2 linked regions of the Homo sapiens genome follow. The protein of the gene in region 1 purifies or fractionates together with the protein of each later gene. This does not show direct contact. Each region holds a gene or a part of one and is shown on either strand. Other genes may lie near its edges. The genes, in order: NUDT13 and IVD.

Region 1 (11,902 bases):
ATCTAGGCATGGTGGCGCCCACCTGCTGTCTCAGCTACTGGGGAGGTTGAGGTGGGAGAATTGCCTGAGGCTGGGAGGTGAAGGCTGCAGTTAGCTGTGATTGCACCACTGCACTCCAGCCTGGGCAACAGAGTGAGATCCTGTCTCAAAAAAATTAAAATAAAAATTGGGAAATTGAGCTGAGTCTATTAATGCAACCAAATCTGCCACAGTAGTTCCATTAAAAGTATTCCTCAAATTGGCCAGGCTCGGTAGCTCATGCCTATAATCCCAGCATTCTGGGAGGCCTAGGCAGGTGGATCACTTGAGGTCAGGAGTTTGAGAGCAGCCTGGCCAACATGGTGAAACTATCTCTACTAAAATTACAAAAATTAGCTGGGCCTGGTGGCACGAGCCTGTAATCCCAGCTACTTGGGAGGCTGAGGCAGGAAAATCTCAAAATTACGGAAATTGGTAGAAAGTATAACTTCTTATTTGGAAGAAACAGTAGTAGAATCAGTGAACCCAGATTCTAGTCCACCATTAACGGTATCTGAGTGAATTATTTTAACTTTTATGCAAAAGTTTCTTCATTCACCAAATGGCCATAATAATATTTGCCCTACCATCCACAGAAAGACATTATAAAAGTCAATTGATGTTATTTTGAAATTTCTTCGAAAAGTATGAAGTACTAGATTAATATGAGTAATCATTATTGGATGCTGTATGATATGCAATTGTGTGGTATTTTATTTTGTTGTTGTTTGTTAATCATAGAGCCAAAGCTGATAAGTTTTAGACCTGTTTCAATGACTTTGAGAAAATTATGAAATGAAAAAATAATTATAACTAATCTTAATGCAGACAAAAAGTAAAGAAGAGGGATATATACTTGTGGTATCTATAATTAGTCTAAGGTTAATGTTAGTTCTTAAGTCAATCCAGAAGTGAAACATCACTGCTTCATATCCTATATAATTTAAGGAATACTTTGTTGTTGTTGTTGAGACAGAGTCTCCCTTTGTCACACAGGCTGGAGTGCAGTGGCACCATCTTGGTTCACTACAACCTCTGCCTCCCAGGTTCAAGCGATTTTCCTTGTAATTTTAGTAGAGATAGTTTCACCATGTTGGCCAGGCTGCTCTCAAACTCCTGACCTCAAATGATCCACCTGCCTAGGCCTCCCAGAATGCTGGGATTATAGGCATGAGCTACCGAGCCTGGCCAATTTGAGGAATACTTTTAATGGAACTACTGTGGCAGATTGGTTGCATTAATAGATCCAATTCTTCTCCACTTTCTGTATTCATGTCTGTGTAGTAAAAAATAAACCTTGCCCCAACAGGTATATAAAAATATGCTCAACATCATTATCATCAGAGAAATGCACATCAAAACTACGAGATATCAACTCACCCCAGTTAAAATAGCTTTTATCCAAAATGCAGTCAATAATGAATGCTGGCGAAGATATGGAGAAAGGAGAATTCTCATACACCGTTGGTAGGAATGTAAATTAGTACAGCCACTATGGAGAACAGGATGAAGGTTCCCCAAAAAACTAAAAATAGGACTATCATCTTAATATAATCCAGCAATCCTACTGCTGGGTATTAACCCAAAAGAAAACAAATCAGTACATCAAAGAGATATCTGGCCAGGCATGGTGGCTCATGCCTGTAATCCTAGCACTTTGGGAGGCCGAGGCTGGTGGATCACTTGAGGGCAGGAGTTTGAGACCAGCCTGGGCAACATGGCGAAACCCTGTCTCTACTAAAAATACAAAAATTGGCAGGGCGCGGTGGCTCACGCCTGTAATCCCAGCACTTTGGGAGGCCGAGGCGGGTGGATCACGAGGTCAAGAGATCGAGACTATCCTGGCTAACATGGTGAAACACCGTCTATACTAAAAATACAAAAAATTAGCCGGGCGCGGTGGCAGGCGCCTGTAGTCCCAGCTACTCGCTACTCGGGAGGCTGAGGCAGGAGAATGGCGTGAACCCGGGAGGCGGAGCTTGCAGTGAGCTGAGATCGCGCCACTGCTCTCCAGCCTGGGCGACAGAGCGAGACTCCGTCTCAGAAAAAAAAAAAAAATTAGCCGGGTTTGGTGGCGGGTGCCTGTGTTCCCAGCTCCTGGGGAGGCTGAGGCTGGATCACTTGAGCCTGGGAGGTTGAGGCTGCAGTAAGCCGTGACTGCGCCATTGCACTCCAGCCTGGGCGACAGAGGGAGACTTTGTCTTTTTTTGTTTGTTTGTTTGAGACAGAGTCTCCCTCTATCGCCCAGGATGGAGTGCAAGTGGCGCGATCTCGGCTCACTGATACCTCTGCTTCCCGGGTCCCAGTTCAAGCAATTCTTCCTCAGCCTCCGGAGTAGCTGGGATTACAGGCACGCGCCACCATACCTAGCTAATTTTTGTATTTTTAGTAGAGACAGGGTTTCTCCATATTGGCCAGGCTGGTCTTGAACTCCTGACCTCGTGATCCACCCGCCTCGACCTCCCAAAGTGCTAGGATTACGGTCGTGAGCCACCGCGCCCGGCCAAGATCCTGTCTTAAAAAAAAAAAAATCCCACAAAAAACAAAATCCTGTTTCCATGAGCAGTTACTCCTCATTATCTTTGAACACTATCCTCATCCCCATCCCTAGGCACTTTTTGTCTTACAGATTTGCCTATTCTGAATATTTCACATAAGTGCAATCACAACCCTAGGTATATTTCATATAAATTGCCCCCATTCCTAGGCAGCCACTAATCTGCTTTCTGTCTCTATAGATTTGCCTGTTATGAACATTTCGTAGGAATACAATATGTACTCTTTTGTGACTGGATTATTTCACTTAGCATAATGTTTTCAAGCTTTATCCATATTGTAGTATATATAATTCCTCTTTGTTGCCAGAAATATGTCATTGCATGGTTGGATATGCCACATTTTGCTTCTCCATTTATCAGTTGATAGTCACTTGGGTTGTTTGTACTTTTTTTGAATATTGTGAATAATGCTTCACAAAAATTAATTTACAAGTTTTTGTGGACATTTGTTTTCAATTCTCTTGGGAATATAAATCCAGGAGTTAAATTGCTGGGTCATTTGGTAACTCTATATTTAACTTTACGAGGAACCACCAAACTGTTTTCAAAAGCGGCAGCACCATTTACAATTTTACCAGCTGTGTATGAGGATTCCAATTCCACCACATCCTCACCACTCCTTGTCATTATCTGCATTTTGATTGTAGCTATCCTATTGGGTATAAAATGATATCTCATTATGATTTTGATTTGCATTTCCCATGCAAATCTTTTCATGTGCTTATGGGTCATTTTTCTATCTTCCTTGAAGACGTATCTATTCAGATTCTTTGCTCATTTTAAAATTTGGTTGTTTATCTTTTTATTACTGTGTTATTTAAGTGTTCTTTATATATTCCAGATAGAAGTCCCTTATCAGATACATGTCTTGCAATAATTTTTCCCAATTCTGTGAGTTATCTTTCTATATTCTTCATGATATTGTTTGTAGCACAAAAGTTCTTAAAATTTTGATGTCTTATTTTTTCCTTTGTTGCTTATGCAAAAAAAGCCAGATGAGATTTTAATAGAAATTGCATTGAATCTGTAGATCAATTTGGGGAATATGCCATTTTAACCAAATTAGGCCTTCCAATTTATGAACATGGGATTCTTTCAATCCTTCCAATATTTTCCAATATTTATGTTCAACTTCTCTACCTCACACCCAGTCAGAGATACAATCCAGGTCTATAGTATGGTGGTCAAAAGTACAGATTCTTTCTTAAGACAGATTTAGTTTAATATCCCAACACTTCTACTGATTAGCTGTGTAAATATGGACAAATTACTTTTCTTTTTTTTTTTTTTGAGATGGAGTTTCACTCTGTTGCCCAGGCTGGAATGTAGTCGCTCAATCTTGGCTCACTGCAACCTCCACCTCCTGGGTTCAAGCGATTCTCTTGTCTCAGCCTCCCGAGTAGCTGGGGCTACAAGAGCACGCCACCACACTTGGCTCATTTTTGTATTTTTAGTAGAGACGGGGTTTCACGATATTGGCCAGGCTGGTCTCAAACTCCTGACCTTGTGATCCACCCGCCTTGGCCTCCCAAAGTGCTGGGATTACAGGTGTGAGCCACCGCGCCTCCCCTACTTAATTTTTCTAAGCCTATGTTTTCTCATCTGTAACGTGCAATTTTTTTTTTTTTAGACAGGGTGTCTCTGTCACCAAGCTGGATGGAGTGCAGCATCATGATCTCGGCTCACTCCTGGGCTCAAGCAGTCCTCCTATCTCAGCCTCCTGAGTAGCTGGGACCGCAGGTGCATGCCACCATGCCCAGCTAATTTTCGTATTTTTTGTAGAGATGGTGTTTTGTCATGTTGCTCAGGCTGGTTTCTTGAACTCCTGAACTCAAGCAATCTTCCCACCTCAGTCCCCAAAGTGCTGGGATTACAGGCGTGTGCCACCACACGTAGCCTAAAGTACAAATTTTAATACAGATTTCATAGGATGTGAGGATTAATGACAAATATGTGGGACACTTAGCATAGTGCCTGGAACACAGCAAATGCTCAGTCTGAGCTATTTTTATTATTATAGCACTTAACAATTACTACAAAAAGTTATTTTGACTTTTTAAATTATTAGAGCCCCAATTTCCCCCTAAGCATCCTTAGAATCCATTGACTTTATATCTTGTTTCCCTACAATTTTCTGTGTCTTCCTTAAGGATAATGAACCAATCTGATTTTTTTTTTTTTTTTTTCAGACAATGTCTCGCTCTGTCACCCAGGCTGGAGTGCAGTGGCGCAATCTCAGCTCACTGCAACCTCTGCCTCTCGGGTTCAAGCGATTCTTGTGCCTTAGCCTCCCAAGTAGCTGGGACTACAGGTATGTGACACCAGACCTGGCTTAATTTTGTATTTTTAGTAGGGTTTCACCATGTTGGCCAGGCTGGTCTAAAACTCCTGACCTCAAATGATGTGCCCACCTCGGGCTCCCAAAGTGCTGGGATTACAGGCATGAGCCACCATGCCCGGCCTACTCTGATCTCATCTCTGATCACCATGCTCTTTCCTAGCCTTTCCTCAAACGGCACACTCCCACCCCAGGGCCTTTGCATATGCTTATTTTGCTCTGTCTACAAATCTCTTTCCATAGATATAAATTTGGTTTCTTCATCACCTTCTTCAGGGTCTTTGTTTAAATATTATCTTAACAATGAGGCTGACCATCCTATATAAAATAGCAAAATAATCCCTCTACTTATCTTGCTTTATTTTTCTTCTTAAGCTTTATAACCACGACACATTGTATATTTACTCGTTTGTTTCCCCTTCTAGAATGTAAGTTACATGAGGACAGAGATTTTCATGTTTTGTTCCCTGCTGTATCCTATCCCTATAACAGTCCTAGGCACATTGGGTACTCATTAAATACATGTTGAATGAGTGGACTTCTTCTCTTGGCTGGGTGCGGTGGCTCACGCCTGTAATCCCAGCACTTTGGAAGGCTGAGGCGAGTGGATCACTTGAGGTCAGAAGTTTAAGACAGCCTGGTCAACATGGCGAAACCCTGGCTTTACTAAAAATACAAAAATTAGCCAGGCATGGTGGTGTGCACCTGTTATCCCAGCTGCTCGGGAGGCTGAAGCAGGAGAATCACTTGACTCCGGAGGAGGAGGTTTCAGTAAGCCAAGATTGTACGTACCACTGCTCTCCAACCTGAGCGACAGAGCAACTCCATCTCAAAAAAAAAAAAAGTGTCTTCTCTCATAGGCAAGTAACTTCAGTAGTAAAACGAGAAGAGAGCAGCACCAAAGTAGCTCTGCTGAGAGGTGAAGCCAGCTGGACTTCCTGGGTGGAGTGGGGACTTGGTGAACTTTTCTGTCTAGTTAGAGAATTGTAAATGCACCAATCAGCACACTGTAAAAATGCACCAATCAGCACTCTGTGTCCAGCTAAAGGATTGTAAACACACCAATCAGCACTCTGTAAAAATGCACCAATCAGCGCTCTGTGTCTAGGTAAAGGATTGTAAACGCACCAATCAGCACTCTGTTTCCAGCTAAAGGATTGTAAACACACCAATCAGCACTCTGTAAAAATGCACCAATCAGTGCTCTGTGTCTAGCTAAAGGATTGTAAACACACCAATCAGCACTCTGTGTCTAGCTAAAGGATTGTAAATGCACCAATCAGCACTGTGTCTAGCTAAAGGATTGTAAACGCACCAATCAGCACTCTGTAAAAACGCACCAATCAGCACTCTGTGTCTAGCTAAAGGATTGTAAATGCACAAATCAGCACTCTGTCAAATGGACCAATCAGCACTCCATAAAATGGACCAATCAGTGCTCTGTAAAATGGACCATTCAGCAGGATGTGGGCAGGGACAAATAAGGGAATAAAAGCTGGCACCCCCAACAGCAGCGGCAACCTACTCGGGTCCCCTTCCACGCTGTGGAAGCTTTGTTCTCTCGCTCTTCACAATAAATCTTGCTGCTGCTCACTCTTTGGGTTCGTGCCACCTTTAAGAGCTATAACACTCACCGAAAGCTCCACGGCTTCATTCTTGAAGTCAGCAAGACCAAGAACCCACTGGAAGGAACCAACTCCGGACACACTTCTAGGAGACTACTTCCAGTCAAATGGAATGCGCTTCCTCTGATCAAGAAATGAATCCTACCATAAGTTCAAACATATCTATACATACCTATACAGAGTCCCATCCTTTTAAATTGGAAGAACTTCATGAAATTTTAGAGCTAGTTCTAAAGTGTGCAGAGAGAGAACTAGAGATATACTAAGGTTAAAAGGTATTTGATTCCCACCCCTGCTTCATCCTCTCCCCAGCCTCATAATATATGCCTTCTGTGTATGAGGGTGGACTTAATGACTTTATCTTTTTTTAATTAAAAAATGGATCTAATACTAACCTACTTTCTCCAAGGATACAGTAGTTCTCTTGGTAATAAGATCTTAGATGTTCATGCTTTTGACAATCATGGTTAACTTGCAGCTGGAGAACACAGCAGCATGCCTGGGAACTGAACTACAATTCCCAGAGTGCATCTCTAGGAGGATTCTGGGAAGTGTGGCAGAAGCAGCAATGGTCCCTCCAGGGAACGGAAGCCGTTGAACGTGAACATTTGGAGTTTCCTCTTTTGTGCTGATTCCTGAGGACTAGGAAGGTGCCCCGAAAAGAATTCAGAGTGAGTACAGTGAAACAGAAACCTGCTCAGCTTCTAAGTGCAGGAAGGACTTCACAGGGAGGCATGATCAGAACTTGAAAAAAGGTCGTGGTCACAGCATTTTAACATTTTAGCTTAATCTCTTCCTTTTTGCAGAAACCAGGGATATAACCATAGTTTTGCCTCATAACTGTGGAGCTACATCAGTAACCACAGCTCATCATTTTCTGATACTTTTTTGGAGAGTCATTTAAAAATGGAACTTGCCAACCTCTCACATTGTGCCTTAATTTTTATTTTTTTTTAAAGGAGGGAAAATTATTTTTTAGAAAGCAAACTATAAAGCAGGTCAGTGAGACCTTCAAAGCTGTATTCCCGTGGTTCCTCAGTTTTCCATATTTCCCTGTCCCATGGAGGTCCACAGTCGTGGAGAAACGGACTCTAAACACAGGCGAAGTATCACTTGGTCGCCCAGGCTGGAGTGCAGTGACACGATCTCCACTCACTGCAAGCTCCGCCTCCTGGGTTCATGCCATTCTCCTGCCTCATACTCCCTAGTAGCTGGGACTACAGGCGCCCGCCACCACGCCCAGCCACTTTTTTTTGTATTTTTAACAGAGACGGGGTTTCACCGTGTTAGCCAGGATGGTCTCGATCTCCTGACCTCGTGATCCGCCCACCTCGGCCTCCCAAAGTGCTGGGATTACAGACGTGAGCCACCGCGCCCGGCCTAAAAAAAGGTCTCTTAAATACTAGGGAACCTGGCCTCTTCACGGTGGAAGTAACCACTAGATTCAAGATGGGCTTTTTTTGTTTTGTCTTGTTTTGTTTTGTTTTTTTGTTTTGAGACGGAGTCTCGCTCTGTCGCCCAGGCTGGAGTGCAGTGGCGCGATCTCGGCTCACTACAAGATGGGCTTTTTTGTCACGCTGTAGTACTTTATAATCTTTCTTCTGGAAAGATGAACAGGATAAGAAACGTGTGAATCATTTGTGTTGGGGAGTTCAAAGAAACTCTTAATGTTAAAGCACCTTGCCTCATCATTTAGTAGTTGGGTAAGACTGCTATTACCTTTCATCTCTATCAAACATTGTACTTTTAAAAACATAAATAGCTCTGTGACCATCAGCTCATGAGTCAGCAGCCATGATAATCTACAACTGGCTAAGGTTAATTTAGTAGCAGAAACTAGGCAAAACATCAGGCAGCAGTTCCCAAGGTCCAAGAAACTCACCAAATGAATTCCCTTTGGCTCATGGAATATGGTGAGGTGTTTTGGGGAACAGTGGCATGGAGGTAGCCTCATTAACCAGTTAGTCTCAGGAACTACTATTTTATTAGGCTTTTCTTTTGTCTTAAAAGGAATAAGTACACATGGCTAATTTTTTTTTCAGTACAGAAAAATGAACAAAATAAAAATTACAGGCACCTTTTTCAATATTTGTCTTCATCCCACTCCCCCAAATTAGTCACTCTTTAATAGTTTGGTATGTATACTTCTAGTCATTTGAAAAATATAAATAAGGCCGGGGGCAGTGGCTCTTGCCTGTAATCCCAGCACTTTGGGAGACCCAGGCAGGCAGATCACCTGAGAACAGGAGTTCGAGACCAGCCTGACCAACATGGAGAAACCCCATCTCTACTAAAAAAAATACAAAATTAGCTAGGCGTGGTGGCGTATGCCTGTAATCCCAACTACTCGAGAGGCTGAGGCAGGAGAATCGCTTGAACCCGGGAGGTGGAGGTTGCGGTGAGCCGAGATTGCGCCATTGCACTCCAGCCCGGGCAACAAGAGCGAAACTCCGTCTCAAAAAAAAATAGAAAGAAAAATATAATTAAATACATATAATTTATGTATATTGGTATGTCTGTGTCCTTTTTTTTATAAATAATTAGGTCATGTTAACCAACTGTTACCTGTTTTTTTCTCCAGCTTTATTAAGGTATAATATTAAGGTATTAAAGTATAATATATACTTTTTGACAAAAAAAGTATATATTTATAGTTTACAATGTGATGTTTTGATACAGGTATACATTGTGAAATGATTAAATCTAGCAAATTAATATATTCATCACCTCACATTTTTTGTGTGTGTTGAGAATATTTAATATCTACTTTCTTAGTAATTTCCAAGTATATAATATATTATGAACTATAGTTACCATACAACACAATAGATATCCAGAATTTATTCATCCTAACTGAAACTTTGTACACTTTGACTAGTATCACCTCCAATTCCTCCTTGCTTTTTTTGTTTACTTAATAATGTGTTCTAAGTCTCTCTCCCTGTTACTATATATATATATTTTTTTCACTGTTATATTATTTTCTATTTGTTCTTTTTCTTTTTTTTAAGACGACGTTTTGCTCTTGTTGCCCAGGCTGGAGTGCAATGGCACGATCTCTGCTCACTGCAACCTCTGCCTCCTAGGTTCAAGCGATTCTCCTGCCTCAGCCTCCCAAGTAGGCAGGATTACAAGCGTGTGCCACCACGCCCAGCTAATTTTGTATTTTTAGTAGAGATGGGGTTTCTCCATGTTGGTGAGGCTGGTCTCGAACTCCTGACCTCGGGTGATCCGCCCGCCTCGGCCTCCCAAAGTGCTGGGATTACAGGCGTGAGCCACCGCACCCAGCCCTTCTATTTGTTCTTAAGTCGCGTATTAATCCATTTTATCATAATTTTCAGTTAACGTTCTTGTACATATCCTTTCCTTCCTAGGGTAAATTCCTAAACATGGAATTGCTGAGGAAAAAGAGAGGCTTATTATTTGACACTTTAATAGATATTTCCAAATCAACCTGTAAAAATATCATACCAGTTTACATTCTGAGTGGTGTATGAGCCAGAAATAATGACTTTAAATACATTTTTTATAGTATATCACACTAGTTTTGGGGTTATTAAAGTAGGAATAATACTTTTAATAATCTCCTAGAGTGCTTTGCAACCCACATATTGCATACTGCCTTCTGTGAAAGCTGGCTATATATTTGTTTTCTCTCTCCTGCTAGAGTTCCTTGAGGGCAGGGATTTTCATCTTTTACATTTTTGTGTTCTTTAAGGGACCCTGAATAAAGTCAGTACTCAATAAATACTTTGTTGAATGTCATTTGCTAAATATATTTTACCCATGGCTAGGACATAGATTGTAGCCAAAACTGTCCAAGAATTCATCATCAGTGATTCATAATTATGCAACCAAGAAGTAGGACTAAATTTTAGATGTTCCTCGGTCATTTAGTGTCAAAGCTGGCTTTCCTCAGACACAGTGAAAAGGGTGGTTGGTTATTTAACTGTAATGAATTCTTGACTTTTTTTACTGCCAATGTGAGAGGTACTTTTCATGGGGAATAAAATACTGATATACAATTTAAAGGGACCATCTTGGCCAGAATGGATTATTTAGTTACAGATTTTTTTTCTTTCCCAATGAGCAACAAAAAAATAGAAAATATCTTGGATCCATGTGAATTTGCATAGCTGCCTTCTGAAAAAATTTCCTAATGTTGTGACTTTATATATTCTTATCTACAGGATTCCTTCTACTTCATTCTTACTCTAAGTGGGTAGAACAGGTTTCAGTTTTCTAGATCATGAAAGAAGTACTGAAATGTTGAGATCCCATAGCTACTTAGGGGTAGAAATGCAATTTAGAAACAAGATCACCTGACTCCTATTGAGTTTGTCTTTCCTTAATATTACAGAGTGATCCCATTCTGGCTTAAAGTATAACCCTCTTGGCAATTCATTACTTTAAATTTCATATTATGACTTTTTTTAAAACTCCTTTTTTTTTTTTTTAAGGACCTGACAATGTCCCTGTATTGTGGAATAGCTTGCAGGAGAAAATTTTTTTGGTGCTATAGGCTGCTGTCAACCTATGTTACTAAGACACGGTGAGTTTTAGCCAACCTGAGCTTTGATTATTCTGTTTGGCCCATTAAACTATTGTGATATTATGATTTTATATATATATTTAGGTTTATGATTATTATATATACATTATATATTACTATATTTGTGTGTGTGTATATGTGTGTGTGTGTATATATATATATTCATATATATATATATTCATCCATGGTTTCTGGCTCATAACTCCTATGGCCCTTATTACAGTCTTTTGTTATAATGTGGGGCACTTTAGACCTCAGGGGCAGGCCTCAGGAAACAAAATCTCTTTTACCTTCTCCTGTCCTCCTTTTACCTGCCCATGGCAGGACTCTAATCTGATTGCGGGTCCAAAGACCCTCATTCCAGAGAGGGTTGTGCCCCATACTCCGGAGGAAGGAAGGCTGCACAGAGAGGCCAAGGAGAACCTGAACAGACAGGCATTGCTGGGTTTCCGGTCAGTCTATTATTATGAAATCATAACCATTTTGTCCAATCAGATTTCTACATGGTTGTCAATCATGCCTATGTAATGAAGCCACCATAAAAACCCAAAAGGACAGGGTTCAGAGAGCCTCTGGATAGCTGAACACATGGAAGTTCCTGGAGGGTGGTGCACCCAGGGAGTCATGGAAGCTCTGCACCCTCCCCCCACATACCTGACCTAAATGCATCTCTTCATTTGTATCCTTCGTAATATCCTATATAATAAACCAGTAAACATCAAAAAATATATATTTTTACTTTTTTAGAGATGGAGTCTCACTCTGTCACTCAGGCTGAAGTGCAGTGGTACAATCTTGGCTCACTGAAGCC
Region 2 (12,497 bases), on another chromosome or scaffold:
CTGCAGCCTGGACCTCCTGGGCTCAAGTGATCCTCCTGCCTCAGCCCCCCAAGTAACTGGGACTACAGGCACACACAACCACACCCAGCTAATTTTTGTATTTTTTGTAGAGATGAGGTCTTGCCATGTTGCCCAAGCTGTTCTCCAACACCTCAGCTCATACGATCCGCCTGCCTCGGCCTCCCAAGGTGCTGGGATTACAGGCTTGAGCCACCAAGCCCAGCTCCCCTTTTTTTTTTTTTAAGAGACGGACCAAGGCCAGAGTATAGCTTTAGGCCAGAAGTTCTTGACCAGCCTGGGCAACATGGTGATACTCCTGACTCAAAAAAAAAAAAAAAAAAAAAAAAAAGACAGCATCTTGCTCTGTTGCCCAGGCCGGAGTTCAGAGGCACAATAATACACAATAATAGCTCACTGTAACCTCGAATTTCTGGGCTCAGCCAACTGAATAGCTAGTACTACAGATGAATGCTACCACCCCTCGCTAATTTTTAAATTTTTGGTAGAGCTGGGGGCTCTCACTATGTTGCCCAGGCTGATCTTGAACTCCTGGCCTCCCAGAGTGCCAGGATTACAGGTTTGAGCCACTGCACCCAGCCGAGAATGTACTCTTGTGTTTGGTTTCTTTAGCTCAACATGTCTCTATAATTTGTATCGTTGAATGTATCAGTATTCTCTGGCTAGTGGACATTTGTTTCTATGTTTAGGCTATTAATAAAAGTGCACTGGTTTCTCTTGGATAGATACCCAAGAATAGAACTGCTGAGTCGGAGGGTAAGCAACTCAGTTTTCCAAAATAAATGTACCTGTTTATACCACCACAACAATGTATGAGAGCTGGAGGTTTAGTCAGTCTTTTTTGAAATATATATTTTGGCCAGACACAGTGGCTCATGCTTGTAATCCCAGCACTTTGGAAGACTGGGGCGGGAGGAGTACTTGAGTTCAGGAGTTCAAGACCAGCCTGGGCAGCATAGCAAGACCTCTTCTCTACCAAAAATTTTTTTAAATAGCCAGACGCGATGGTGCACACCTGTAGTCCCAGCTACTCTGGAGGCTTAGGTGAGGGGATTGCTTGAACCAGGGAGAACGAGGCTGCAGTGAGCTGTGAAAGCTCCACTGTGTTGTTGGTGGGCCGGTTCAGGTTCTTGACTTTGGTGAGCAAAAGAATTTGAGAGCAAATCCAAAGTAAAAGTAGGCAAAGTAGTTTATTGCAAAGTGAAAGTACACTCTTGATAGCTGGGCCAGAGAGGGCTACTTGAGAATGAGACAGCCCCATCCTACACTGGGGAAATTACCTTTATGAGAAGCTTATATAATTATTCATTAAAGGGTGGGAATGAGTGTTGCTGTTAAGCATGTTGTGGAAGGTCTTCTGGATGAGCACACACTATTGCTATACATGCCAGTATATACATTGCATGTCTCATTAGCATTGTAATTCTCCATCCTGGGGTGTGTTTTTACTGTTAAATGAGTATAGGTCAACCTAAAGACACTGACCAAGGGTTTCTGTCCCTGTGCAAGCTCGAGGTTTTTTCCCCTTTTACTCTTTTTCCTCCTTGCAGCAGGATGTTCTGACCACGAGTTCCTGATGCGGTTTGTGCAGCGTTGAGCTGTGCTCTCCATCTGTCTGTTTGGCAAGTATCTTCTTCCCCTTTAAGTGAGGCTGTGACCAACCTACCTGATCTATCTCAACTGCACTCCAGCCTAGGCTACAGAGTGACACCGTGTCTCAAAAGATAGTAATAATTTATATATTTGGGGATAATTTTAGATTTATGGAAAAGTTGCAAAGATAGTCCAGAGAATTCCCATATACCCCTTCCCCAGCTTCCCCTAATGTTAACATCTCACAATACCATGGCACATTTGTCAAAACTAAGAAACCAGCATCAGTAGATCATTATTAACTAAACCCTGGGCTTTATTTGGATTTCATTGGTCTGTCTACTAATGTAGTTTTTCTGTTTTAGGATCTCGTTCAGGATGCCATATTGTATTTTGTCATTAGTTATTATGTCTCCTTAGTCTCCCCTGGTCAATGACAGTTTCTCAATCTGTTTCTGTTTTTCATGACCTTGACAGTTTCAAGGAGTAGCGGTCAGATATTTTGTAGAATATCCCTCAATTTGGATTTGTCTGATTTTTCTTTCTTTTTTTTTTTTTTTTTTTTGATGATTAGACTGTGGTTATGTGTTTTAGGGAAGAATACCACATATGTAAAGTGTACTCAACGCATCATATTGAGAGGTGAAGCCAGCTGGACTTCTGGGTCGGGTGGGGACTTGGAGAACTTTTCTGTCTTACAAGAGGATTTTAAAATGCACCAATCAGTGCTCTGTAGCTAGCTAGAGGTTTGTAAAATGCGCCAATCAGCACCTTGTAAAATGGGCCAATCAGTGCTCTGTAAAATGGACCAATCAGCAGGATCTGGGCGGGGACAAATAAGGGAATAAAAGCTGCCCCCCAGCCCCGCCACCACCCCCCAACCCCAGCCAGCGGTGTCTAGCAGCTCGGCTCCCCATCCAGGTTGTGGAAGCTGTTCCTTTGCTCTTCAGAATAAATCTTGCTGCTGCTCACTCTTTGGTTCCATGCCACCTTTAAGAGCTGTAATACCACGAAGGTCCACAGCTTCATTTTTAAAGTCAGCGACACCAAGAACCCACCAGAAGGAACCAGCTTTGCACACGATATTACAGGTATATAACATCAACTTGACTTGTTGCTAGTGATATTAACTTTGATCACTTGGTTAAGGCAGTGTTAGCCGGGTTTCTCCACTGTAAAGTTACTGTTATACTCCTTCCATACTCTCTTTAGAAGTCATCACTAATTCCAGCCACTCTCAAGGGGAGTAAGAACTATCTACCTGTCTATATTGTTTGGAATTCTTCTGTAAGGAGGATTTCTGCCTTCTCCCTCCCATTTATTTATAACAATATAAACATGTTTGTTTTTTTCTGTTCTTTTTTTTTTTTTTTTTTTTTTTTTTTAAGACAGTCTTGCTCTGTGGCCCAGGCTGGAGTACAGTGTTGCGATCTTGGTTCACTGCCACTTCGCCTCCCAGTTTCAAACGATTCTCCTGCCTCAGCCTCCTGAGTAGCTGGGACTACAGGTGCACACTACCTTGCCTGGCTAATTTTTGTATGTTTGCAAAAATGAGGTCTCATCAAGTTGACCAGGCTGGTCTCAAACTCCTGACCTTAGGTGATCTGCCCACCTTGGCCTTCCAAAGTGCTGGAATTATGGATGTAATTATATACCACACCTGGCCTGTATGAACAAGTTTTTACTTTGTTTTTTCAACTTTTATGTTCAGGGGTGCATGTGCAGGTTCGTTACATAGGTAAACTGCCTGTCACCCAGGTGACGAGCATGGAACCCGATAGGTAGTTTTCTGATCCTCACCCTCCACCCACCCTCCACCCTCAAGTAGGCCCCAGTGTCTGCTGTTGCCTTCTTTGTGTCTGTGTGTACTCAATGTACTCAACTCCCATTTATAGGAGAGAACATGCAGTATTTTATGTTTTTACTTTATACTTTCATTTGTTCGATTTTTACCTTACTTTGTTGCTCAAAGCTTTATTGTTCACCTTTCATATTAAGGTTTATTATCTACCTCTAATCTTTTGTATCATATGAAATCGGAGTCTTGCTCTGTCGCCCAGGCTGGAGTGCAGTGGTGCAATCTCGGCTCACTGCAAGCTCCGCCTCCCGGGTTCACGCCATTCTCCTGCCTCAGCTTCCCAAGTAGCTGGGACTACAGGTGCCCGCCACCACGCCCGACTAATTTTTTGTATTTTTAGTAGAGACGGGGTTTCGTCGTGTTAGCCAGGATGGTCTCGATCTCCTGACCTCGTGATCCGCCCAGCTTGGCCTCCCAAAGTGCTGGGATTACAGGCATGAGCCACCGTGCCCGGCCTTCTTTTGTAATGTTTCTTGTAAGATTTTTGGTATCAGGATTATATTGGCCTCATAAAATGAGTTGAAATAATAAGTTTGGTATTATTTCCTTTTTTTTTTTTTTTTTTTTTTTCCGAGACGGAGTCTCGCTCTGTTGCCCAGGCTGGAGTGCAGTGGCGCAATCTCGGCTCACTGCAAGCTCTGCCTCCCGGGTTCACGGCATTCTCCCGCCTCAGCCTCCCAGTAGCTGGGACCACAGGCGCCCGCCACCACGCCCGGCTACTTTTTTTTTTTTTTTTTTTTTTTGTATTTTTAGTAGAGACGGGGTTTCACCATTCACAGGATGGTCTTGATCTCCTGACCTTGTGATCCGCCCACCTCGGCCTCCCAAAGTGATGGGATTACAGGCTGAGCCACCGGGTATTATTTCTTGTTTATTCTCTCTTAGGTTTATACCCATATTTTTTTTTCTTTTTCTTTTTTTTTTTTTTTGGTTTGAGACGGAGTCTTGCTCTGTCGCCCAGGCTGGAGTGATGTGGCGTGATCTCCACTCACTGCAACCTCTGCCTCCCGGGTTCAAGCGATTCTACTGCCTCAGCCTCCCGTGTAGCTGGGACTATAGTCTCCCGCCACCATGCCCGGCTAATTTTTTGTATTTTTAGTAGAGATGGGGTTTCACTATGTTGGCCAGGCTGGTCTTGAACTCCTGACCTCGTAATCCGCCCGCCTCGGCCTCCCAAAGTGCTGGGATTACAGGCGTGAGCCACCGCGCCCGGCCTATACCCATATTTCTTACTTAAGTATTTGGAAGAATTCATTAGTGAAGTCATTTACGCTTGGAGTTTTCTTCATGGAAAGTTTTTCATTGTGGATTTCAATTTATTTAGTAGATATAGGACTATTCAGATTTTCTGTTATGTCAGTTTGTGTCAGTTTGATTTGTCTATTTCATCTACATTATCAAATGTATTAGCATAAATTGCTCAAAATATCCTTATCTTTTTCATATCTGTAGGATTTGAGAGCTGTCCCCTTTTTAATTCTTGATATCAGACATTTGCAATTTCTCTTTTTTTCTTGATAAGTCTTGCTAGCGGTTTATCAATTTTTAAAATCTTCTTTTTATTTTAGGAGATAGGGTCTTTCTATGTTGCCCAGACTAGACTCCAACCCCTGGGCTCAAGCAATCCTCCTGCATCGGCCACCTGAGTAGCTGGGATTACAGGTATGTACCACAGCACCCAGCTTAATTTTGTTAATCTTTTTATTTTTTGTTTTTAATTTTTTTAGAGACAGGGTTTTGTTCCGTTGCCTAGACTGGAGTACAGTGGCCTGATCATTACACACTGTGACCTCAAACTCCTGGGTTCAAACCATCCTCCTGTCTCAGTCTCTCAAGAAGCTGAGACTACAAGCACAACCCACCACCGCTGGCTAATTTTTAAAATTTTTTGTAGAGACTGGTCTTATTGTGTTGCTCAGGCTGGTCTCGAACTCCTCACCTCAAGTGATCCTACTGCCTCAGCCTCCCAGAATGTTGGAATTACAGGCGTGAGCCACCATGCCTGGCCCACATTACCTCTTAAGATGACTCAAAAGCGCTTCAAACATAATTGTGCCCAAAACAAGCTCAAAGTCTTTCCTCTCAGACCTGATTCTTTTCCAGTGAACCTACACATTTATTGTAGGTTTGAGTTAAGAAAAGTGCCAACAGTGCAACACATAAATAGGCAAAGGACATGATCTGACAGTCCACAGAAAAATAAGGGCTTTCGGTATGAAAAAATCCTCCACCTCATTCATAAGAAGAAAAACTAAGTTGTATCTATACAATGGAATAGTCTTTAAAAAAAGAAAAAAGAGGACGCTCTTAACATAGTGATATGCCAAGATCTCCAAGATACATTGTTAAGTGTAAGAAGAATATATATTCATAATTGCTTGTATTTACATAAAACTGTGGAATATTTAAGAAACTAATAAAGGTGGGCTGGTACAGTGGCTCATGCCTGTAATCCAAGCAGTTTGGGAGGCCAAGGCAGGAGGATTGCTTGAGGCCAGGAATTTGAGACCAGCCTGGGTAACATAGTGAGACCCTCATCTCTACAATATACATACATATATATATATATGTATGTATATGTGTATAGATGTATATATTAGGCCGGTGGCATGTGCCTGTAGTCCCATCTACTTGGCAGGCTGAGGCCAGAGGATTGCTTGAGTCCAGTCATGGCAGTAAGCCATGATTGTGCCACTGTGCTCCAGCCTAGGTGACAGAGATCCTGTCTCAAAAAAAAAAAAAAAAAAATTTAATTTCAACCTGATTTAAAAAAAAAAAAAAGCGGCCGGGCGCGGTGGCTCACGCCTGTAATCCCAGCACTTTGGGAGGCCAAAGTGGGCGGATCACGAGGTCAGGAGATCAAGATCATCCTGGCTAACACGGTGAAACCCCGTCTCTACTAAAAGTACAAAAAATTAGCCAGGCGTGGTGGCAGGCGCCTGTAGTCCCAACTACTCGGGAGACTGATGCAGGAGAATGGTGTGAACCCGGGAGGCGGAGCTGGCAGTGAGCCGAGATGGCGCCACTGCACTCCAGCCTGGGCGACAGAGTGAGACTCCGTCTTAAACAACAACAACAACAAAAAAGCAGTGCTATGATCGGGTGTTAACTTCTCAGTAGTACTTCAAATTATGGTGAGGGGGTGAGTTAGAAGCTGAGGAATGGGTGCAGGGAAGTTGGATGTGGTATGAATGATCTAAAAATGAGAGCAATGTGCCAAGTACTGTGCTGAATCATTAAGTATGCAATCTCTTTTATTCCTCATAGTAGCCTTAAAGTTGGTTGGTATCATTTTCGTTTTAAAGATGATGAAACAGTGACTGAAAAGATCTAAGAAACTTGCCGAAAGTCCCACAGCTATGTAGTGGGATTGCATAGACTCCTGGACTCAGGGTACCAACCTGAGATGAGTTGTTCAAGAGCATTGACTTGGCTGGGTTCCGTGGCTCATGCCTGTAATCCTAGCACTTTGGGAGGCCAAGACAGGAGGATCACATGAGCCCAGGAGTTCAAGATCAGCTTGGGCAACATAGTGAGACTGCCCACCCCCACCCCGGCCCCATCTCTAATTAATTAATTAAATTTTAAAAATAACATTGACACAACATGGAGGAGGAAAATAGAGCAAGTGGAGAGGGGATAGAGACTTAATTCCATCAGCTCCCCTCTTTCCCCTCACCACTCTTCCTTTCCCTGTGTCCCGAACCCGTGTTTCTAAGTCCTGACTGCTATTATTCTGGTGTATTAAATACATACTATTTACTATTTAATACATCTTTTGTTGTTGTTTGTTTTCTCAAATTTTTTGTGGAGACAGGGTCTCCCTATGTTGCACAGGATGGTCTTGGACTCCTGGCCTCGAGCGATCTTCCCACCTAAGCTCCCAAAGTCCTAGGATTACAGGCATGAGCAACCATGCCCAGCCTATTTAATACATCTTATTTAATATATAGTATAATACGTAAATATGTACTATTTAATATTTAACACATATTAAATACAAATGGTCCCCAACTTACAATAGTTCAACTTAAGATTTTTCAACTTTATGATGGTGTGAAAGTGATAGACATTGAATAGAAACTGTACAATATTCAATAAATGATATCTAACACTGTCTTATAAAATATGCTTTGTGTTACATGATTGTGCCGTTATAAGCTATTATAAGTGTTCCAAGTACGTTTAAGGTCCACTAGTCTAAGCTATGATGTTTGGTAGGTTAGGTGTTTTTTTGTTTTCTGTTTTGAGACGGAGTGTCACTCTTGTTGCCCAGGCTGGAGTGCAATGGCGTGATCTCAGCTCACCGCAACCTCCACCTCCCGGGTTCAAGCGATTCTCCTGCCTCAACCTCCTGAGTAGCTGGGATTACAGGCATGCACCACCACGCCCAGCTAATTTTTGTATTTGTAGTAGAGACAGGATTTCTCCATGTTGGCCAGGCTGGTCTAAAACTCTCCGCCTCAGGTGACTCACCCGCCTCGGCCTCCCAAAGTGCTGGGATTACAGGTGTGAGCCATCATGCCCGGCCTAAGTGTATTTTCAAAGTGCATTTTTGACTTACAATATTTTCCATTTATGATGGGTTTATCGAGAAGTAACCCCACTGTAAATCGAGGCGCATCTCCAATCTAGAAGGCAGCTACTCCTTAATAACCCCTTTCCCATAAAACATGAATCTAAATCTACAAACCTTGTTATATAATAAAGCAAGATGTACTCTGTTATGATCAGTGTGCACGTTAGAGCAAGCACTACTTTTCCGATCTTAATTATTCCAGAGATGCTTGACCAATTTACTGGGTACGTGGGCAGTTTTCTGATTGCTGTTTCCACACTCTGCTTTCCCACAGAGAGATTTCCGCAGTTAGGGGCTGCTATTTCAACGCAGGGAGATAAAAAGAAAAAAACACTTGCTCTTCTACCCCGCTAAAAACACTCATCCTAGGGAGCACGCCAGCATTTGCAGCGTTCGGGGCAGGGCCACTCGGCCTGCGGCCGTTGCACTGGCTGGAAGCTGGCAGGCGATCACGGTTGATTGGCTCGGGTGCGGTCCAAGGGCAGCAACGCCTTCGGCGGGCCGCCTAGGGTGATTGGCTGCTGCAGCCCACCCCCTAGCCGGTTTGGTGGGCGGCGAAGCCTGGATTGGTGGAGCTAAGAGCTGGCTCAGTTTCAGCGCTGGCTCTTCGTGCATGGCAGAGATGGCGACTGCGACTCGGCTGCTGGGGTGGCGTGTGGCGAGCTGGAGGCTGCGGCCGCCGCTTGCCGGCTTCGTTTCCCAGCGGGCCCACTCGCTTTTGCCCGTGGACGATGCAATCAATGGGCTAAGCGAGGAGCAGAGGCAGGTGAGGAGACTGACCCCCTTCCTGGCCCCAAGGCCTCCTTCCTGCCTGGTCCCCAAGGCCTCCTTCCTGCCTGGTCCCCATCGGCCCAGCGCCCACCCAGCCTTGGCTTTTGCCCGTGGGCCGTTGGGAGCGCCAGCGCGGGGGCGGGACGCGGGGCCTCCGACCTCGGGTCCAGTCCTCTGACCTCGGCCTCACGTCTGTGGAGTGAAGATTTGAGACCGTGGGACAGTACTGCTGGAAGTAGAGAGGAGGAGTCGAGGCTGGGAGAGCTCCTGAGAGACTGATGGTGTTTTGGTGGAGGATTGGCCAGGCTACCTACCGCTTGTGGCACAAGGGCCCTCAATCTGTATGTAGTTCACTTACACCTGAACAGGCTGAGGTATGCTTCTCACACCTGGGTGGTCATCGTAATCACCAGGGAGTCTTTTTTGTATAAACAGTTTGGGGGTTTTAAAAAGCCACAGTGAGCTCTCCTGTCGCTCTTCAGCCCATTGGGTCAAAACACAAAAGTTGAACAAGTACTTGAAAGAAGTAGTTGGAGGCCAGGCGCCGTGGCTCACACCTGTAATCCTAGCACTTTGGGAGGCCGAGGTGGGAGGATTGTTTGAGCTCAGGGGTTTGAGATCAGCCTAAGCAACATAGCCAGACCCCCATCTCATAAAAAATAGAAAAGAAGACGAAGTAGTATTTACAAATGGAGCAGAACCAGAGTCCTTCCTGAGGTTTCACTTGGAGGCTGGATGGAGTTGGCGGAGGTATGAGCCTCCCAGCAACTCCGTAGTTTATGTTTATAGCCAGCGAGCGCTCAGAGCTTCCGTGAACCACCTCAAGTGGAAAGGGTTCAATCCCTATTCTCAAGCTTTCCTGGCAAGAGGAGTTTCTTTTCTTTTTTCTTTTTTTTTTTTTTTTGAGACGGAGTTTCACTCTTGTTGCCCAGGCTGGAGTGTAATGGCGCGATCTCCGCTCACCACAACGTCCGCCTCCCGGGTTCAAGTGATTCTCCTGCCTCAGCCTCCCAGGTAGCTGGGATTACAGGCATGCACCACCACGCCCGGCTAATTTTGTGTTTTTAGTAGAGACGGAGTTTCTCCATGTTGGTCAGGCTGGTCTCAAACTCCCAACCTCAGGTGATCCTCCTGCCTCGGCCTCCCAAAGTGCTGGGATTACAGGCATGAGCCACCATGCCCAGCCGCCAAGAGGCGTTTCTAATCTCTTTGGGTAATCAGACCCTTTTAGCCAAAGGTTCGGGGGCTTAAAAGAGCCTGACAACTATTGAGATCTGGCAGCTGCCTGGAATGCAGCTGGAGCACAGAGGGTGGGAGGTGGGAAGGTGCTGGGGAAGCTAGGAGAGTCAGCTGGGGTCAGCTCCTGCAGGGCCTAGTAGGCCTGGGTGAGAAGCTTGTGTTTTATTCTAAGTACAGTGGAAACCAATGGAATGATTTTTATGTAAAGTGTGACGTTTTAAAAATTACCATCAAGCTGTCTAGGCTGAAGACCTTAAGAAAGAGGGGTGAAGATCATCTCTGAGGAGGCATAAACTACTGAGGCCTCTCAGTTTCAGTCTGATGCTGTTTGGGGAAGTTACTTGTGGCCTTTTCTCTTGAATGTGTCTGGGTAGTGGAGATGCTGTCTGCAGTGGCATCTGTTTACCTCTCTCCTATTAGCTTCGTCAGACCATGGCTAAGTTCCTTCAGGAGCACCTGGCCCCCAAGGCCCAGGAGATCGATCGCAGCAATGAGTTCAAGAACCTGCGAGTGAGTTGGGAGGTCCGGGCAGTCGGGGGCAGTCAGGGAGTGGGGCTGAGCTGCACTGCTGCCTGGAAGAGCTCACACAGTTTTCTGGTAAATGAAGCCTCTCTAAGAATGCAGCCCCTCTCTCTGAAGTGTTTGGGTCTCATTGTTCCAGCCACATGTGACTGGCTGCCTTCCCCTCAACACTTATTCCACTCTGCTCCATTCTGTTGGCAGGAATTTTGGAAGCAGCTGGGGAACCTGGGCGTATTGGGCATCACAGCCCCTGGTGAGTATAGTGTCTTTCCCTAAAAAGAACTTTTCTTATGTGCCCTTTAAGACAGTTCCCAAAAGAAGCAGGAAGGGAAGGGAAAGATTGTGCTTAAAGAAACCCAGAACTGCATCTTTTGGACCTGTGAAAGCACCCATTGATTGTCAGCCCAGAGAACAGGACACTCTTCTATTTTATTAGACAGTGATGTAGAGAAGGCAGAGGGATTAATTAGGTCATTGTGGCTCACTTGGATCAGGATCAGTCCAACTCTTGAACTCTGCATACTTAATAGGCTCACCCAGGTGATTTGGGAAGTTTAGAAAACTCTGGATCAAGTGGTTGTCTTCATAGTACCTCAGTCTTACTGCCTCCCCTAATCCCTATAAGCTTTGTCCTACCAGTGGCCTCTCGGCAGGAACACTCTGGGCAGGTGTGTCCCTGCAGGGACTGCCTGTGTCCTCTTCTGCTTAAACCTTGGAGCTCATTTGGGAGCAGATAGCGGGGGGAGTAGGGTAGGGGCTGGGCAGGGGAGAGAGATGTCTATCTGGGCTTCCAGGTGAGGTGGCCAGATGATGTGTTTAATAGGCTGTCCGGAGGGAGAAGGCAGGGAGCTAGCAGGCTCTGGTTTGGATGATATTAACGTCTGAAAGAGGCCCAGACTGGCTTGCAGTGCCCGGTAAAGAGATGAGCCTAGGCCAGGCGTGGTTGCTCACACCTGTAATCCCAGCACTTTGGGAGGCCGAGGCAGGTGGATCACCTGCGGTCGTGAGTTCGAGACCAGCCTGACCAACATGGAGAAACTCTGTCTCTACTAAAAATACAAAATTAGCTGGTCATGGTGGTACATCCCTGTAATCCCAGCTACTCGGGAGGCTGAGGCAGGAGAATTGCTTGAACCTGGGAGGCGGAGGTTGCAGTGAGCTGAGATTGTGCCACTGCACTCCAGCCTGGGCAACGGAGCGAAACTCCGTTTCAAAAAAAAAAGCCCAGCCTGCTTGGGCCTGTATTCACTCTGGGCATGAGAGTATGAGTGGAACCCAATATACTTCTCCTTACATCCTAGAAAGTTATATCACCTTTCATAAAATGAAACCACTTGAAGATTAATTGAAACCATCTTAATGTAAAAGCATTAGGGGAAAGGCTGCTGGGTACTCCTAAGCAAGACTCTCCTACTGTGTTTTGGGGGTTTATGTACCCCACTCCCTGCAGACAATATGCTTCTGAATCAGATTGTATTTTACGGAAGAAAGAGGCAGTTAGAAATCAGATGAAAATGGCCAGGTGTGGTAGTGGGCTCCTATAATCCGAGTGACTCGGGAGGCCAAGGCAGGAGGATCGCTTGAGCCCAGGAGTTCAAGGCTGCAATGAGCCATGGTTACACCATTGCACCCCAGCCTGGATAAGAGAGTGAGAGCCCGCCTCTTGAAAAAAAAAAAGAAAAGAAATCAGATGAAAACTCTTTCAAGGGAACCTGAAAAAGAAAGCTGGTTACAAGTTCTGGTTTCTGCATGATGTCATGGTGGCTGTTTCTAATGTCACCTGCCTTCAGGCTTTCCTTCCTGCAGTTGTAGGGGCAGGTCAAGGTTTCCTTAGAGCCTAGAACGAGCCTGACTTATTGGTCAGAGTGAACATGTGTATAGGACCTTGCTAGGCTTGACCCAATCAGCAGGGCTGGG

What was found.
Region 2: the proteins of NUDT13 (region 1) and IVD purify together in Homo sapiens (affinity purification with mass spectrometry; 2 studies listed by BioGRID and IntAct, with this or other methods). This does not show direct contact.

Annotation. Positions count from the first base shown.
Region 1 is NC_000010.11:73,103,358-73,115,259, forward strand, and holds the start of NUDT13 (NAD(P)H pyrophosphatase NUDT13, mitochondrial), read left to right. Parts: upstream 1-7,097; 5' UTR 7,098-7,210; intron 7,211-10,999; 5' UTR 11,000-11,008; coding exon 11,009-11,091; intron 11,092-11,902. UniProt on the Homo sapiens protein: NAD(P)H pyrophosphatase that hydrolyzes NADH into NMNH and AMP, and NADPH into NMNH and 2',5'-ADP. Has a marked preference for the reduced pyridine nucleotides.
Region 2 is NC_000015.10:40,397,158-40,409,654, forward strand, and holds the start of IVD (isovaleryl-CoA dehydrogenase, mitochondrial isoform 1 precursor), read left to right. Parts: upstream 1-8,637; 5' UTR 8,638-8,661; coding exon of another isoform or gene 8,662-8,670; coding exon 8,671-8,814; exon of another isoform or gene 8,815-9,097; coding exon of another isoform or gene 9,098-9,193; intron 9,194-10,478; coding exon 10,479-10,568; coding exon of another isoform or gene 10,569-10,655; intron 10,656-10,781; coding exon 10,782-10,833; intron 10,834-12,497.